Linked DNA regions of Homo sapiens. The protein of the gene in region 1 interacts with the protein of each later gene in a pairwise test. Each region holds a gene or a part of one and is shown in the gene's direction. Other genes may lie near its edges. The genes, in order: MYBPC1, KLHL41, CAPN3 and ANKRD1.

Evidence for each region.
Region 2: the proteins of MYBPC1 (region 1) and KLHL41 interact in a two-hybrid assay, tested with the Homo sapiens proteins (one large-scale study listed by BioGRID and IntAct).
Region 3: the proteins of MYBPC1 (region 1) and CAPN3 interact in a two-hybrid assay, tested with the Homo sapiens proteins (one large-scale study listed by BioGRID and IntAct).
Region 4: the proteins of MYBPC1 (region 1) and ANKRD1 interact in a two-hybrid assay, tested with the Homo sapiens proteins (one large-scale study listed by BioGRID and IntAct).

The regions. Positions count from the first base shown.
Region 1 is NC_000012.12:101,601,114-101,605,747, forward strand, and holds part of MYBPC1 (myosin-binding protein C, slow-type), read left to right. Parts: intron 1-4,634. UniProt on the Homo sapiens protein: Thick filament-associated protein located in the crossbridge region of vertebrate striated muscle a bands. Slow skeletal protein that binds to both myosin and actin.
Region 2 is NC_000002.12:169,519,406-169,524,039, forward strand, and holds part of KLHL41 (kelch-like protein 41), read left to right. Parts: intron 1-1,455; coding exon 1,456-1,602; intron 1,603-4,634. UniProt on the Homo sapiens protein: Involved in skeletal muscle development and differentiation. Regulates proliferation and differentiation of myoblasts and plays a role in myofibril assembly by promoting lateral fusion of adjacent thin fibrils into mature, wide myofibrils.
Region 3 is NC_000015.10:42,357,807-42,363,115, forward strand, and holds the start of CAPN3 (calpain-3), read left to right. Parts: upstream 1-1,694; 5' UTR 1,695-1,999; coding exon 2,000-2,308; intron 2,309-5,309. UniProt on the Homo sapiens protein: Calcium-regulated non-lysosomal thiol-protease. Proteolytically cleaves CTBP1 at 'His-409'. Mediates, with UTP25, the proteasome-independent degradation of p53/TP53.
Region 4 is NC_000010.11:90,913,900-90,918,279, reverse strand, and holds part of ANKRD1 (ankyrin repeat domain-containing protein 1), read left to right. Parts: intron 1-449; coding exon 450-548; intron 549-2,010; coding exon 2,011-2,109; intron 2,110-2,399; coding exon 2,400-2,498; intron 2,499-2,638; coding exon 2,639-2,737; intron 2,738-4,380. UniProt on the Homo sapiens protein: May play an important role in endothelial cell activation. May act as a nuclear transcription factor that negatively regulates the expression of cardiac genes. Induction seems to be correlated with apoptotic cell death in hepatoma cells.

The DNA.
Region 1 (4,634 bases):
AAATTTGAGAGCATACCAGTTAAGGAAAGCCAAACTGTGAAAAAGAAGAAAAGACTTTGTCACTTAATTTTCTACATGTATGCAAATTATCTCATAACTGGATAAGAAGAGGGCTTCTGTCCTTGCAGCTTTTTACAAAGACAGCCCCCCCAAAGTCAAAGTGATCATACTGTCTTGTCGTAATTCTGCTCTGTGTGGATAGGCTCAGTTTTAATTTACAAAGAGTATGTTTGTTTTAGACAGCCCAAAGATGGACCACAGGCCAAATTTCAAGATGTTCCCATTCATGGGACAGAGTATTTATGGGCTTTAACGTACATTTTCAGAGTAAACTTTTAGGTCCCATCAGATTGGGGCATGAATTGATTGATTTGGCAGAGGCGGAGACCAGAATCATTCAATCTCACACTTATTTCTCTTTCTATAATGAGTTCACAAAAAGCTAACTGTAATCTGACTTTCATTATGCCTTTCAAGTCTAAATCCACTTTGATAAGACTTGCCCTTTTATACTCCCTTAGGAATCCTTTTTAGGCCAATTTGGCACATCAGGGCAGCGTCTAAAATTACATTTAATAATATGTCAAATGTTAGATCTTATGATTTTGTTCTATTCTTTTTTTTTGATGTGTATTTAGCTATTTTGGTAAGTATTCTTCTTCTCTAAAATTGTCCAAATCTTTCCTAAATACTCTTTATAAATTGCTTTGCTTGCATCTGGTGATATCGTTTGCCTTCTAAAAATTTTAATGAATCTTGGAACAGAATGCTCTACTTAAAACTCAAAATGTGTCCTTTTTAATTCTACATTTTGTCATGTTTAGAGTTAGATGTCTTTAGGGTTGTTATGCACACAGTATGTGTCTTGGCTTTTTCTTTATGCATCTTAAATATTATGCATTATTAAACATGGTGACATAAAAAAAATTATACTATTTGTAGAACATTCTAGACAGCTCAAATTCCAGCTGCACCATAGACTGAATTACTTACACTTTGTATGCCTCTGTTTCCTCATCTGTATGTGAATAAAACAGTATCAACTCTTTGGGTCTCAGTAAGAATTAACTGAAATACACCAGGTAAAGTGCTTATTTTATCTTATTTTATTTTTTATTTGAGATGGAGTCTTGCTCTGTCGCCCAGGTCAGAGTGCAGTGGCATGATCTCGGCTCACTGCAACCTTCACCTCCCTGGTTCAAGCAATTCTCCTACCTCAGCCTCCTGAGTAGCTGGGGTTACAGGCATGCGCCACCACGCCCAGCTAATTTTTGTATTTTTTTGGTAGAGATAGGGTTTCAACATATTGGCCAGGCTGGTCTCAAACTCCTGACCTCAAGTGATCCACCTGCCTCGGCCTCCCAAAGTGCTGGGATTACAGGCATGAGCCACCATGCCCGGACAGGTAAAGTGCTTAGAACAGGGCCTAACATATGGAAAGATTTCAAGCATTTTCCTCCTAAAGCAGTAAACTCAGAAATCTTGTCTGGCACAAGGTATTAAATGCCTCATATTTCACATAAACTGATGGCATTTCCCTCAACATAAGGGATGTAACAACCACTGCTCACCTCCTCACTAGTGTAATATTTATAATACACGCCAAGAAAGCTGCTATGATAGTCATAACCATCATTCCCACCACTATATTTCCTTCTTTTACTTGTGGTGATACATCTTCGCTTTCACCCATAGAAGCTCAGATCAAATAAAAGGTCTATACTCCATGACCTCTGTTGTGTTCTTACTGAAATGAGCCATGTCCAATTCGGGGGTCTGTAGTTGTCAGCATAAGGTGATAACGGTTGGGTTGTTTCTTCACTGTTCTTGTGGGGACATGGCCTTTCCCACTTAGATGAAAGAGTTACCCTACAGAGTTGAACAATATCTATGTCTGTCTCCAAGGGTTATAAGTCTTGGGTTTGTGGGACTTTACAATTTCTCTCCCTGGCCAGGCGTGGTGGCTCATGCCTATAATCCCAGCACTTTGGGAGGCTGAGGTGGGAGGATCACCTGAGGTCGGGAGTTTGAGACCAGCCTGACCAACATGGAAAAACCCCATCTCTACTAAAAATACAAAATTAGCAGGGCATGGTGGCGCATGCCTGTAATCCCAGCTACTCAGGAGGCTGAGGCAGGAGAATCACTTGAACCTGGGAGAACGGAGGTTGTGGTGAGCCAAGATCGCGCCATTGCACTCCAACCTGGGCAACAAGAGTGAAACTCCGTCTCAAAAAAAAAAAAAAGAAGATTTCTCTCTCTTATCAGGGGTGCTTTTTGGTGGATAGGGTCTTCCTCAGTCTGCGCTTTCCTGAGATGACCACATAAAGAACTCTCCATGACCACATATGGATGTGGTGGGTGATTGATTGAGTGTCACTGTGTTTATTGCGGTGGAATTTTATTTTTATGACCCCACCTGGCGTCAGGACTCTTCTTCCTCTATTTTTAAAAAGTCACCCAATGTGAGGTCCAGCAACAGTTTGGAGCAAGGCCTTTAAGAAATTTATCCTATAACCCTATAGCCACATAAATAAGTGATACAAGATCAGGTACAATGGCTCATGCCTGTAATCCCAGCATTTTGGGAGGCCAAGGCCAGAGAATTGCTTAAGCCCAGGGGTTTGAGACCAGCCCAAGCAACATGGTGAAACAGCATGAAAAAATACAAAAATTATCTGGATGTGGTGGTGTACACCTGTAGTCCCAGCTACTTGGGAGGCTGAAGCAGGAGATTCACTTGAGCCCAGGAGGCTGCAATGAGCCATGATCATGCCACTGCACTCCTGCCTGGGTGGCAGAGTGAGACTCTGTCTCAAAATAATAATAACAATAATAACTGATTCAAGATCCCCAAAAAAGACACAGTAAAGGAGGAAACTGTTAACAATTCAAATTGCTTTTGCAATAATTTCTTTTTGACCTATGCTAAAATTTTAAGCTCCTTCAATCTGAGTAAATCTTCCCCTGCAAAACACACCCCATTTGATTCTTTAAAACATGGTAAGAGTAGTGAGGAAGGCAAGTCCTCAGATCTTAGCAATTTTCCCCCAGCCCCATGTTAACAATGAGAAGCTATTTGTTGCTATGTAATAAGGACCATATTTTAATCCTCTTCCTGTGTGAAATGACATCCTGAGATGAAACTTGCATAATTAGAAGGACAAAAGAATGAATTGACTAGGGGAGGAAAAAAAACCCTGTAGATTCAGGGAAATTCCAAAGGTTGAATAATGAGTCATTGAATATTTACATGATCAAGGTACAATTAGACTTCATCTATTCAGAACATTAGAGTACAGTACAGTCTTTGGCAACATTCGACCATAGTAAATAAATATGGATTAAATTGATTGAATCATTCTGAATAGCTGGATTCTCTGCACAGCTAAAGGTTAATTTTGTTATATAACCTCAGAGCCTTATTTTTTCCACCAGTTTGAATAGAAACATTCTTAAAATGTAATATATTACTCCTTGCTTTAAAAAATAAAGTACAGTGGATATAATTTGTCTTAAATTATAGATATCAGTTATTAGTAGCATGTGACACCCTGAGGGCCCAAATTATTTGCTCTTTTGAAAAATGGACTCATATTGATTTGTATTTTGAATTTCTTTCCAATTTTTCTTAGCTTTCCTACTTTATCCCTCCTAGAAGTGTGCTGTCTTCTTTAGTACTCTTGTCAGTCAGCATATGAAACTGTTCCCCTCACTCCCCTTTGTCCTTTATTATAGACGCCATTCCAGGTAATTAATCTGGCTGAGTAGAGTTTAGCACCACCTAAGGCACAACATTTAAGAAGGCACTGACTTTCTGGGTCACCAAAATGCAGGTTCAGCCCCTTAAGTGACCTCCTTAAATTTTGCTCCTCAGGCACCCTGCTTACCTTTCCCAAGTCCCAGGCCCTGGGTTTACTGAGGAGCTAGGGCCTTCTTCCATGAGGAAAACACAGAAACTCTTAGTGCCTGGAACGTAGGAGCTTGAGATAAATGCAGAGGCCCTTCAGAGGCCCTTTTATTTGGGTGGTCAGAAGCTGTTAGGTAAGTTGCTAGATAGCTGAATTCTGCATAGGGTAGGTGTTACTAGACACTATTGCCCTTTTGTCTCTATTATGGTGCACTTAGGAAAATGAGTTATTGCTTCAAAATCAATGTAAGGTTTTTATTTTGACTGATTCATTCATTTTATCAAAGCTGCAGATGTATATGATATATATGACCTGAGTTTGTTTTAAAAATAACATGCACAAAATCTTTTTCCAAAGAGATTTGCAATAAATTCAAAACCAGTGGTTCAAACCTTTTGGTCTCAGATCCCTTTGCACCCTTAACAATTATTGAATAAACTAAAGATCATTTGTTTATGTGCATAACTAGTGTATTATACACACTAACTTTAATTTGGAATACAGTAAATATTGTATTAGTGTGTCATATATTTACTGAATTAAAAATTAAAATTGGTTGGGCATGGTGGCTCATGCCTATAAACTCAGCACTCAGGGAAGCAGAGGCAGGTGGATCACCTGAGGTCAGGAGTTTGAGACCAGCCTGGCCAACATGGTGAAACCTTGTCTCTACTAAAAATACAAAAAATTAGCTGAGCGTGGTGGTGGACCCGTGTAATTCCA
Region 2 (4,634 bases), on another chromosome or scaffold:
TAAAAATAATGTTTTCGAAGACTGTAATGTGGGTAAACACTCATGATGTAAGTTAAGAAGCAACACACAAAAATTGTAAATATCTTCTTAGTTTCATTTATATGTATGGAAGCTTAAATGTACATGCTTTTTAAAAAGATGACAAAATTACACCAAATTGTTGCTTGTGATTATGTCTGTAAGGTATGATTATGGAGATATCTGCTCTCTTGTATACCTTTCTGTACTTTCCAGATTTTCTCAAACTTTTTTTTTTTTTTTTTGAGACAGGGTCTCACTGTGTCACACAGGCTGGAGTACAGATTTTCTATAATGTACATATATTATTTTTATAATTAGAAAAAAATCGGCTAATTTTTTGTATTTTTAGTAGAGATGGGGTTTCACCATGTTGGTCAGGCTGGTCTCGAACTCCTTACCTCAGGTGATCCACCCACCTAGGCCTGCCAAAGTGCTAGGATTACAGGCATGAGCCACCGTGCCCGGCCTTAGGGTTGCCATATTGAAGGCTTTATATTTAATGAAGTTACATCTTTCAAATATTTTCTAGTAGCAAACTTAGTCATTTACTTTTAGATGCCTGTGCTCCTTGAATTTTTTTTTCCCCCCTTAAAGACAGGGTTTTGCTCTATCACCCAGGCTGGAATGCAGCAATGCGATCATAGCTCACCGCAGCCTTGACCTCAAGGGCTCAAGAGATCCTCCCAAGTAGCTGGGACTATAGGGACATACCACCAGGCCTAGCTCTGTGTGTGTGTGTGTGTGTGTGTGTGTGTGTGTGTGTGTGTGTGTGTGTGTGTGTGTAGACAGTCCATTTTGTTGCCCAGGCTGGTCTCATACTCCTTGGGCTCAAGCTATCCTCCTGCCTCAGTGTGTGTGTGTGTGTGTGTGTGTGTGTGTGTGTGTATGTGTGTGTGTGTGTGTGGAGGCAGTCCATTTTGTTGCCCAGGCTGGTCGCATACTCCTTGGGCTCAAGCAATCCTCCTGCCTCAGTCTCCCAAAGTGCTGGGATTACGGGCATGAGCCACCGAACCCAGCCGCTACTTGAATATTTATTTTTTATTTAGATGGAGTCTCGCTCTGTTGCCCAGGCTGGAGTACAGTTGCACAATCTCAGCTCACTGCAACCTCCGCCTCCCAGGTTCAAGTGATTCTCCTGCCACAGCCTCCCAAATAGCTGAAATTACAAGTGCGCGCCACCGTGCCTGGCTAATTTTTTGTATTTTTGGTAGAGGTGGGGTTTCACCATGTTGGTCAGGCTGGTCTCAAACTCCTGACCTCAGGTGATCTACCCGTCTCAGCCTCCCAAAGTGCTGGGATTACCGGCATGAGCCACCGCGCCTGGCTGCCTGGCCACTACTTGAATTTTTAAATTATTATTTCCTATAATTATTCAGTAAGTACATCTGGCATTTCTTTAAGTTTTACATTGACTATATTTTTAATGATACCTAGATGGGATGTAATGACCGAATTTCCCCAAGAAAGAAGCTCCATCAGTTTGGTCAGCCTGGCTGGATCTCTGTATGCAATTGGTGGTTTTGCTATGATTCAACTGGAGTCTAAAGAATTTGCACCCACTGAAGTCAATGACATATGGAAGTAAGTTCTCATCACTTCAATTTTCAGAATCACATATTAAATCAGATGACTGATAAACTATTTTGTAGTAAACAATAAGCCAGATTTTCCCAACATGCAAGCTACTTCTTGGTAGTAGACTAAACACTTCAAACCTAATTGAACTTCTGTACATGCCACTTACTTGAACAAGTATCTACTTCTAGTTAGCTCTGAGCCTGAGAAAGAAATCATCTGGGCAGGCCTGTTTCTTACTGTAAAATGAGAGTTGGACCTTTGATACTCTCAGTTTCATTCCAGCTCTAAGAGTATAATGCTATAGGCATCCAGTAGAGTGAAAGCCTCTTTGCTCCAGAGTAGTTTATTTCCTAACAAAACAGAGTTCTAAAAAAAATTTTATGTTTTTTACTTTTTTATTTTTATTTTTTTGAGACAGAGTTTCTGTCACCCAGGCTGGAGTACAATGGCGGGATCTCAGCTCACTGCAACCTCGGCCTCCCAGGTTCAAGTGATTCTCCTGCCTCAGCCTCCCGAGTAGCTGGGATTACAGGCATATCCACCACGCCCAGCTAATTTTTATATTTTTAGTAGAGACGGCATTTCGCCATGTTGGCCAGGCTGGTCTCGAACTCCTGACCTCAGGTGATCCACCCGCCTCAATCTCCCAAAGTGCTAGGATTACAGGCGTGAGCCACGTACCCAGCCTAAAGAAACATTTAACCTCTTGAGCTTTCCACTACTTCATTAGTTCTGTTTTCAATCTAATTTAAACAGCTTTCCAATTGTTTTAGGCTTCAGCTAATAAATGCTTTTTTAAAATGAAAAAAGTCAAAATAGCAATCCATTTTACCTGCCTGGAGGTGCCAGGCAGTTCTCCTAAGTATGACACTTGAAACTGTTACTCAATTGAACATTTTAGTGAGGCTATTAAAAAAAAAGTTTGTTTTTATTTTATTTTGAACTGAGATCGCGCCACTGCACTCCAGCCTCAGCTACAGAGCGAGTCTTAAAAGAAAAAAAAAAAAAGAAAAAAGAAACACAGAATCCCAGACCCTACTGAATGAGAATCTGTATTTTTTAACAAGATTCTTAGGTGAATTGTTTGCACATTTAAGTTTATAAGTACAGCTTTGGAAGAGTGCCATTTATACTTAATCAGTGAAGGCATACCACTAAGCCTGAGAGTGAAAAGTGGGTATTATTTGTTCTATACCTTAACCAGCAGATGCTTTATTCCCAGATGCTGAACTAAAAAGGCTGAAAAGCTGGTACCTTAACCAAACAATGATTTGTGCATTAGACATCATTTCCCCATGTTGTAATATTAACTAGCTGTGTAGAGGGCAAGAAAAAAAGTGGCTATGCAAGGAAATTAACTACTTTCCCTCCTCCCCCCAAAAAAGAGGGAGAAAGAGAAAAAAAATGAGATTTCCACGGAGCAAAGAGGCTAGAATTAGCAAAACAGTGAGATGGGGAAAAGCTGGAAGCAGTAGGAAAAAAGGATGAACTAATGAAGGCCGGGAAGGTTAGGGTTTTTTGGAAAACAGGGCCAGGTACCAAATATATAAATGGGCAGTGATTCTCAACCCTAGCTGTATGTTACAATCATCTGGGATGCTTTTAAAATATACCAGTGTCTGGGCCTTAACACAGACCAATTATATCAAAATTTCTGGAGGTAGAGTTGAGCATCCCTAGTTCCTAAAACCTTCCCAGTGATTTTTTTTTTTTTTTTTTTTTTTTTTTTTTTTGGTGAGACAGAGTCTCACTCTGTCACCCAGGCTGTAGTGCAGTGATGTGATCTTGGCTCATTGCAACCTCCAGCTCCTGGGTTCAAGCGATTCTCCTGCCTCAGGCTCTGGAGCAGCTGGGACTACAGGTGTGCACCACCATGCCCGGCTAATTTTTGTATTTTTAGTAGAGATGGGGTTTCACCATATTGGCCAGGCTGGTCTTGAACTCCTGACCTCAGGTGATCCACCCACCTCAGCCTCCCACAGTGCTGGGATTACAGGCGTCAGCCACCGAGCCCAGCCCCAGATGATTCTAATCAGCAGCCAGGGTTGAGAAACACTGATATTAAGTAATTGTGCTGTCAATCAGTGGGACCTCCCTGAAGCCCTCCTGGTTCCTAAGGGTTATCAAAAGCCATGCTGCCCCTGCAGGGAACAGTTACAGGCAGCAAAAGAAAGTACAGAATCTCCTGCTATAAAAGTGGCCCTGACATTGTTTAGGGAACCTAAAAGAGGGATCCTCTCTGATTGTGGTTTATTTTGCGATTAGAGCAGTGGTTCCCAAAGTTGCCTGCACGTTCGAATCACCAGGGTGCTTCAAAAAATATTAACACCTCTATCCCACTTATATTGACTGCAATTTAATTGGTCTGAAGTATGGCCTGGGCTTTGGAAATTTTAAAAGATCCATGGATGTTTCTATATGTGTAGACAAGTTTGGGAACCACTGGATTGGGTAAAGAGAAGAGGGGGGCATTCATCACTATCTGCTTGGCTATTTTGAGACTGGTATTTCCTAATTTGGGGTAGGATCTGGAGCATGATTCTCAAACTTTGCTGCATATTAGAAACACTTGGGGAGCTTTAAAAAATCCTGATGCCCAGGCCACCCTTCATACCAATTAACTCAATCTCTGAGAGTAGGACCTAGGCATCAGTATCTTTAACATCTCCAGCTGGTTCTATTGGCAATTAAGTTTGAGAACCTGTAATCTACTACAGTGGTTCCCAAAGCAGCATCAGCCTCACCTGGGTACTTATCAGAAAGGCAGATTCTCAGGTCTCACTTCAAATCTGTTAAATTAGAAACTCTGGGGGTGATAGGGCCAGCGATCTGTGTTTGCACAAACCCTCCAGGTGACTTAGATGTGTGTTAAAGTTGAAGGCCGCCGATCTAGAGAAACGTGGCTGCCTATTTGCCCTCAATTTCCTAGTGAACCTCCCTAACCACACATGCAGAGGTGAAAACTCTCAGTATACAACATTCTCAACATAGACCCTCTTACTATACGTAAAAAAAAAATTCCATTCTTGTATTTT
Region 3 (5,309 bases), on another chromosome or scaffold:
AAATCTGAGACAGAAAGGAAGAAATAACTCACCTAAAGTTACACAGGCACAGCCAATAAGGGGCCAACCTAGACTTTGAACCGAGGTGGTCAGTCACCAGAGACCACTGTCCTCTATTCTGCCTCTCCAAGACTAGTAAAAAGCCCTGGGCATTTTCTTGGAGGGACAGATGGCTAGGCTGATGGTTCCTGCAAGCCCAGACATAGAGTCCTTCAAAGCCGCAATCCCAGGGATCAGGAGGCTGATAGTACTCCCTATTTTACCTGTCACTTCCCACCTTCTTCCATAGCCTCTAATCTTGGATTATTGAGACTGGTCGCATGGGAACAGGCATGACTGCAGCCTAGGACATGCCTCCACTCTGCCATACTTGAAATGTGCTCATCTCCTTACAGCCCAGGGAGCAGCTATTGTGGGTAGAAGACAAGGTGGAGGCCAGGCAGGCACTTCCCTTCCCCAGAGCCACTTATGCTCTCATCTAAGAGCCCTGAAACCAGGTGTGACATCCCAGGAGTTGACAGACAGTCTGGTTCAGTATCTAATTCCAACTTCTGTCTCAGATGCCTAATGTGGCATGGCTGAATGAGTCAACATATAACCTGTACAGTAAGTCCTCACTTAACATCATTGATAGGTGCTTGTAAACTGTGACTTTAACGAAAACATACCGTGTGCTGTAGGGACTTAACTCTTGTTTATATCAGTTAGCCTGGTTTCACTATACAGTACATCATTTTGCTTAAAGTCACAGCTTACGAGAACCTATCGATGATGTTAAGTGAGGATTTTCTCTGCTCAGGTGCACTTTTTTTTTTTTTTAAGACGGAGTCTCTTTCTGTCACCTGGGCTGGAGTGCAGTGGCGTGATCTGGGTTCACTACAACCTCTGCCTCCTGGGTTCAAGCAATTCTTCTGTCTCAGCCTCCCAAGTAGCTGGGATTACAGGCACCCGCCGCCACACCCGGCTTATTTTTGTATTTTTAGTAGAGACAGGGTTTCACTATTGTTGGCCATGCTGGTCTCGAACTCCTGACCTCATGTGATCCACCCGCCTCGGCCTCCCAAAGTGCAGAGATTAGAGACGTGAGCCACATGGCCCAGCAGGACCACTTTTTAGCAGATTCAGTCCCAGTGTTCATTTTGTGGATGGGGAGAGACAAGAGGTGGCAAGGTCAAGTGTGCAGGTAGAGACAGGGATTTTCTCAAATGAGGACTCTGCTGAGTAGCATTTTCCATGCAGACATTTCCAATGAGCGCTGACCCAAGAACATTCTAAAAAAGATACCAAATCTAACATTGAATAATGTTCTGATATCCTAAAATTTTAGGACTAAAAATCATGTTCTCTAAAATTCACAGAATATTTTTGTAGAATTCAGTACCTCCCGTTCACCCTAACTAGCTTTTTTGCAATATTGTTTTCCATTCATTTGATGGCCAGTAGTTGGGTGGTCTGTATAACTGCCTACTCAATAACATGTCAGCAGTTCTCAGCTTCTTTCCAGTGTTCACCTTACTCAGATACTCCCTTTTCATTTTCTGGCAACACCAGCACTTCATGGCAACAGAAATGTCCCTAGCCAGGTTCTCTCTCTACCATGCAGTCTCTCTTGCTCTCATACTCACAGTGTTTCTTCACATCTATTTTTAGTTTTCCTGGCTCAAGCATCTTCAGGCCACTGAAACACAACCCTCACTCTCTTTCTCTCTCCCTCTGGCATGCATGCTGCTGGTAGGAGACCCCCAAGTCAACATTGCTTCAGAAATCCTTTAGCACTCATTTCTCAGGAGAACTTATGGCTTCAGAATCACAGCTCGGTTTTTAAGATGGACATAACCTGTACGACCTTCTGATGGGCTTTCAACTTTGAACTGGATGTGGACACTTTTCTCTCAGATGACAGAATTACTCCAACTTCCCCTTTGCAGTTGCTTCCTTTCCTTGAAGGTAGCTGTATCTTATTTTCTTTAAAAAGCTTTTTCTTCCAAAGCCACTTGCCATGCCGACCGTCATTAGCGCATCTGTGGCTCCAAGGACAGCGGCTGAGCCCCGGTCCCCAGGGCCAGTTCCTCACCCGGCCCAGAGCAAGGCCACTGAGGCTGGGGGTGGAAACCCAAGTGGCATCTATTCAGCCATCATCAGCCGCAATTTTCCTATTATCGGAGTGAAAGAGAAGACATTCGAGCAACTTCACAAGAAATGTCTAGAAAAGAAAGTTCTTTATGTGGACCCTGAGTTCCCACCGGATGAGACCTCTCTCTTTTATAGCCAGAAGTTCCCCATCCAGTTCGTCTGGAAGAGACCTCCGGTGAGTAGCTTCCTGCTTGCTGGCTGGGTTTTCCCCCCACGGAGGAGTCCTCTCACTCAGCACCTCCGGCAGCTCAGCTGTGCACATGGGCACTGGGGGAAGGATCCTGGCAGCAGCTCTGCTGGGCTCTGTCTTTAAGTGTGAAGCAGGGAGGAGAGGAACAGGTCTCAGATATTTCACCAAATCTCAGCAAAATCCAGAGGGAGAGCGCAGGAGGTGGGGCTGATTCTTATGCTCTGGCTCTTTCTCTCTGAAAAAAAAAAAAAAATCTTGCTTTTTATAAAAGTGGGTGGAACTCAGTTTAATTCATCCTGTAAAAATAAATATTCCTTTCTCAGAACAAATTCCAGACAGCCCAGATGTACCTGTTCGTTTTAAATATTATTCATCTTTGTAAGATTATTTCAGTTTCTCTGGCTAAAATCATGATGTTATTCTTCTTTAATTTACCAATGGCCATATCTTTCTGAAACACAGAAACCCTAGAAAGAGAAGAGTCATAGGCAAGGAATATTTTTTCATGCATAAAATGTTGGGGTTAAAGAGAGAGAGACCTAGCAATCGCTTTTGTCCACCTACCTCACCTCATAAGTGAGGAGTCAAGGCACACTAGAGTGAAATATATCTAGTGGGCACATGACAGAGCCCGGATTAAAACTTTCTGTTTTAGGAAACTCTCCCAGCCTCTGGGTTTCATTTACAGTGATCGCCAGGAGGGAAATCACATTCCCCTGGCTCACCTCTCTGATCATCCCTCCAGTGTGACTCTTGTTCTTAATTCGAGAAATATTTATTGAGCATCTACTAGTGCCAGCACTGGGCAAGCAACTGGGGGGACAGCAGTGAGTAAGAAAGACCAAAATTCCAGCTGTCTTGGAACCTAGGGTCCTGAAGGGAAGATGGGCATTGAACAAGAGTGACATTGTCAGGAGACGATGTTCTGGGTGCCACAGGATCATGTGGCAAGGAGAGCTAACCTGGTCCAGGGAGACAAACCCTCTCTGAGGAAATGATGACAAGCTGAGACCCAATACTATTGATTAGCCATGGTTTTCTTTAACCTAAGGTGGGCCAGGCATGGTGGCTCATGCCTATAAACCCAGCATTTTGGAAGGCCCAGGCTGGAGGATTGCTTGAGCCCAAGAGTTAGAGACCAGCCTGGGCAACAGGGTGAAAACCTATCTCTTTTGTACTAAAAATTCAAAAAATTATCCAGGCATGGTGGCACATGCCTGTGGTCCTAGCTACTCAGAGGCTGAGGTGGGAAGATCACTTGAACTCGGGGAGTTGAGGCAGCAGTGAGCCGAGATCATGCCACTGCACTCCAGGCTGGGTGACAGGAGTGAGACCCAGTCTCAAACAACAACAATAACAACAACAAACCTGAGGTGGAGTACTAGACAACCCTGTATATTCCATAGGGGCTCTTCTTGGTTCTATGGTAAGGCCCATAACTGTCCTGAAGGCCTTCAGTTTAGAAGATAACACTACTCTGCTATCAGAGTAGTTGGACATGTCACAACCCCCTGCTGAAATATCTTCAGTGACATCCCTCTCTCGGCCCCCACTGCCTTCAGGACAAGTCCAAACTCCTTAGCCAAGCCATAGGCCCTTCTCAGCTGGTCCCTGCCTACCTGTCCAGGCCCATGTCCATCCTCTTTCCCCAGATCCTGACACACCAGCAGTGCTTGGACATTTAGCTGCTCTGTAGTTCCAAGTCTTCTCACACCGGAGGCCTTTGCTCATGCTGTCTGTCTGCCTGACATGCCTTTTTTGTTCCTATCTGAACCTCTGCTCAGGTGTCACTTCCTTCAATCTTTCTCATGACTGATTTCCTCTCACTGAGAGCAGAAATCCTTCCTGTTCATCTTTGAGGCCCCCTCACCAAGCTCAGGCCAGTCCCATAGTGGGTACTCAGCTGATGCTGGTGAGTGAAAACCCACGCCCAAGGGCCTTGACCAGTGAGACAGGATAGGCCTGCGTTCCCAGGCAGGGAGTTCCTAAAAGCCCTTTCTTGGGCCAGACATGGAGGCTCATGCCTGTAATCCTAGCACTTTGGGAGGCAGAGGTGGGAGCATCAATTGAGCTCAGGAGTTGGAGACCAGCCTGGGCAACATAGTGAGACCCTATCTCTATAAAAAAAGTTTAAAAAAATAAAAGCTCTTTCTCAGAATGGGGAAAATTAAAACCTACAAATACTGTTTTCAGTGAAATCATTGGTGGACTTGAGTCTTCAAGCGAGACTTACAAATTAATAAAAATTCTTTAAGGGCCTGTTATGCTCTAGGTACTAGATTGGGCAGTGTCCATGTTTGAAATGAGGGGTGCAGAAGACTTGTCTGTTCTAAATTGTGCCCCCACCACCACCATCACCAACAACAAAGATCCTGGATTTTCCACTGTTTGAGTCACTAAAGGACCAGATAACAAAGGCCACTCTTGGATAAAATGCCCACATGTTCCCCTGGGGTTAAGATCACAGGAACACTGCCCATTGGGTTCACTAGCATAAATGAGAAATATAAAATTAGAGATGGTCAGAGTTGGAATGATTCTTGGAGAGGTGCTCCAGTGTCCTTGCTTTATAGGTGATTAAGGCCCAGAAAGGGCAAATGACTTATCTACAGCCACACAAGTTGACTTGGAACTGAAAAACTGAAATGACTCCAGAACTTTCTGACTGTAAAGCACTTCTTGGAGACATCAGTTCTCCATAAACTTCTTCAGATGTAGTGACCTTTGCCAGCCCTATGCAGTCTGAAAAGACTGTGTCCTATCAGGAGAAGCACCACACAGGTGAGTAAAGGCCTTCCTGCTTTTACTGTCTAAGGCACAGAACCTTTGGAAACCAATCTGAATTTTTTTTCGACCATCAAGTATTATTTATTATAATTACAGTGATAATGATAATAATGATAAAGGGAGAATTATTCCTGGCCAACTATAATTCTAGTTAAAATAGCATGCTGCACTTTCAGCCTTTCCCTCTTAAAAGAAAACA
Region 4 (4,380 bases), on another chromosome or scaffold:
AGTGAAATTGGGGACCGCTTCTGAAGTTGAACTAAAAACATGTCTCCCATTCTCCTAAAAATGAATGGAAACTTTTTGATAGTCTAGCAACAGTCCCAGATGCAAGAAAGCTGTCTGATCTGCATGGTAATGCTACATGAACAAGGAAGGTGCAAGATAGAAGAAACGGAGATGTCAGCATTTAGATAGTTTTGAGCCTTTAAGTTCACACTCCTCAACGTAGGCCTTTGAGCCCTTGGAAATGTATATTGGAGGAAGCTCAAATATTAGTTGCAGGATAATTGTTCTGATTCTGCAATTTTAGTTAACTTTGACATTTCTATTCATAAAGAAGCACTTGAGTTTCTATCAGTTAGGTCATCAGAATCTCCAGCTTCATAGCTCTTAAAAGGGTTTACACACATTTTTATATTTATTGCTATCTCTGTTTAAAATCTCTGTTCTGATAGTATAAACGGACAGCTCTTCATAGAGCATGCTTGGAAGGACATTTGGCAATTGTGGAGAAGTTAATGGAAGCTGGAGCCCAGATCGAATTCCGTGATATGGTAAATATATTTCTTTGCTTGGGAATGAGCCAAAAGAAGTAGACTATATGAAGCTCCGGAAAACCTCCAATGCAAAACCGAGCTGATTGGATTGAAAATTGATCTGAGAGAACTAGGCAAAAGCTCATTTCTCCAAATAAAGGAAAGTTGGGAGATGAGAGTAGGTCATGTGAAAATATTTTCCATACATACTGAAAATAGAGGAATATTTCAGGGAAAAGAAGGAAGTGAAAGCTGTTAAACTGAATTCAATATCCTCATCAGCGAGTTAGTCATTCATTTTCGACACTTGCCTTTCAACAGCCTTGTCCCTCCATTGTTCACAGGGCAGCCTGCTTATGGTTGGCTGCCAGCAACATATACGAATTCTCTAGCTGCACACTTTATATGATAGATGCCAATTGCTACCAATGAGATTTGGGGCTAGACTGCATATGAAATGAATTGCATCTATGGAAAGTAGCTGCTATTCAGACCTCAATAATTCAATCACTGTGATTTCTACGAAGACCAGTATGCAGCATAATTTATGAACTGAAGATTGAGCTGGGAAAATTCTTTATGTATTTAAATGCAGCTCATTTTGACTTTATAGCAAAGCGGCAACGGGATATCAAAGAAATCCAAGGGACTTGGCCAAAATTGAATCCAAAACATAAACACATTGAAAAAAAAATCAAGAAACAAAATATGAAGTTTGCATGGAAACTAAAAATCATGAGTGTGGGATTAAGGCCAGGGGCATACCAACCACATAGATCAGTGAGGAGAGGGTCTCCTAGGGGTAACTATACACGTTACAACTGTAGACACAAGTGACTACAGTTGAGGTACAGAGGCTGTGCTAGCAAAAATGAGCAGAAAACCCACAGAAGTAGAGAAAGAGCGACAGGGACCCTAGATGAGGTGTCAGATCCAGATTAAAATATTTTGGAAGGGACTACTTTTATTCTGCCAAAATTTTTAAATACATGTGTTTAGAACTTTTGTGTACATTTGACAAAAGAAGTTAGAAGTTCCAGGCAGAGGGGAGTTTGACTGTGTATTCTGCCTCTTATTAGTTGTGTTTCCTTGGGCTAGAAACTTGAACTTTTTGGAACCTGGTTTTTCTTATCTGCAAAATGTGCATAGCAACACCTACCTCAAAATGTTGCTGGAAGAATCAAGGTGTCTAAAGTGTAGCACCATGTTGGCATGAGAAATGTCTCAATAAGTGGCCATTCTTATTCTTTTAAAACATTATTAGATTTATTAAGAGCCTCCTAATAAGACACACATATGCACACACACACACACACACATGTAATTTAGCTAACACATTTGGTAAGAACCTTCGACTCCAGTTAGAATTGTCAATCTAGATGGGGACAACTCATTATTTTCACGGATGCCCTAGCAACCAGGTTCTAATTCCCCAGACCACATTCTCCTTCACATTGTCGGGTCTTCCCTCCCGGTATAGCTTGAATCCACAGCCATCCACTGGGCAAGCCGTGGAGGAAACCTGGATGTTTTAAAATTGTTGCTGAATAAAGGAGCAAAAATTAGCGCCCGAGATAAGGTATTCCTTCTTCTCCTTCTCCCTTCATTCACCCCCTCCCCCTCCCTGTCCCCCATCCTTCTCCACTTCTCCCACTCTTCCCCCTCCCCCTCCTCCTTCTCCCCCACCCGCCCTTCCCTCCTCCCCCACCCCTCCATCTCCTAACCTCGCCTCTCCATTAAAGTCATCTGGAGGCCCATGCTGTGTGCAGGCACCCTAGTGACCACTTCTCCCCCTCGCACATGTCTTGGGGTCTGGGACAGCCTCTGTCCTCATTCCTAGCGAATCAGCAGCGTTTTCCAATTTTCCAGTTGCTCAGCACAGCGCTGCATGTGGCGGTGAGGACTGGCCACTATGAGTGCGCGGAGCATCTTATCGCCTGTGAGGCAGACCTCAACGCCAAAGACAGAGTGAGTAGCTGGACACGCTCGGGTTTCCCAAAGCTTCATTGCTTTTGTATTTGGAATCACTCCCCCAAGCCTGGGTGCCCTTGCAGGACCCACTTCCTGGCCTCAGACCCACCTTGAACCTGTTGACTCTGCTTCTCTAGGAAGGAGATACCCCGTTGCATGATGCGGTGAGACTGAACCGCTATAAGATGATCCGACTCCTGATTATGTATGGCGCGGATCTCAACATCAAGAACTGTGTAAGTACTGGAAACAAGAAACACCGCTTGCAAGCTTTCCAATTTCCAGGAGCATTTCTTAAATAGGTGAAACGACTCCCACAATGGCAGTATTTGAGGGGTCTTCGATGGTCTAAATGCCCCTGCCCATTTCCCCAAGGACAGTGTTTATCTTGGCTAGGACCCAGTTCACATGGCCAGAGATGAGGGAAGTCATAGATACTGCTATGACCTCAGTGCCTGATACAGTGCATAGTAATTCTTTTACAATTTGGTCTTGGAAATGAAAGATAGTCAAAATTTGCTCATCCCCACAAACACCTAGAAGTCCAATCTGCTTTGGCCATTTCTGTCTGTGCAAGGGCTGAGGAAGTTAGAAATAAAGGCATCCACCATTTCCAAAATGTCCTAAAATTCCACAAGGGTCAGTGCAGCCAGTGAACTAAGGTTAATCAATATCCAATCTGAGTAATTCAGAAAGTCCCTTTCCTCCTTACAGCAATGTGAAATGTCACCATTTTCTTCCAGGGGTAGCTGTGCTTTTGCCTGTATTTTTTTTCAGATAATTTCTATCCATTCTCCACTTGGATTTGTCTTCACATCTCTCAAAATAATTTCCTATATTTAGGCCCTGAAAATTCTTGTATAAGTACATATTAATTTAACTTCATCTGTAAGCAGGGAACATAACCAACTTTTCCTCATGGTCTCAATTTCCAGACAAACACCATCTAATATAAGCTTAAAAAATATTGCCCAGAGGAACAGGTATAAATTTCTGAAGAAATAATTTTAAAGAAGCTTTTGAAGAATCACTTTACAAAAAAGAGTGGGGGGGGGGGGAGGGAAACTCAGTCATCATATAAATGCAAATAATTTTCTCCCCTTATTTGTGTTGCAAAGACTGAGAGGAATATCTTATCTTTTAAAACAAATCTGGCTTGGTGACAGGATCAAAGAATGGTGATAAATGAAGATTGCTTGGGATGGGAAAGTGTTAACAGTAGGGCTTCCTCAGTCTAGATATTGGAATTGATCCTATCTAATATTTTTTTAAACTATCAGAAAAAGAGCAGGTTAAATGAAATCTTGAAAGCTGCAGAAAATGTGAAGATTTTTTTTCAGGCAGTGAGACACTACCAGCAGAGACAAATAGCATACAGGTTTAGGGAGACTGTGTAAGTAGCCAGAAAAATCACAATATAAATTTCAATGGAGAGAAGTGCAAGGAATTTATGGAAGAGTAGCCCAAAATATACAAATACGGCTTAGGGTTCTGAATTATCAGTTAGATATTAGCATCAGGTTTATGGAACTATTAATGTCATTGACCCAATGGATTGATGTTTCCCCCAAAGATCAATAACCTATTGATGCCATCTTAAGGAGATTGGGAGCAGCATACAATATTTTCTCATTATCCAAAACTGTATATTCATGTCTACTGATGATTGTTCCTAGAGAAAGACACTACAGAGGTGGGGAAGTTCCAAAATGAAGGTTATAGGGCCACTAATTTAAATACCTACAGATCTCATAATCTGACTGCAGACTGACCTCACTGTGCCGGGCAGATGGCCTAAGTGACTTCAATGTGTGGCTGTCAGGGTCTGTGCACATAACTCTTTTAAAGGTGGCCCTTCCCCAACCCAGTCTATGTTGCT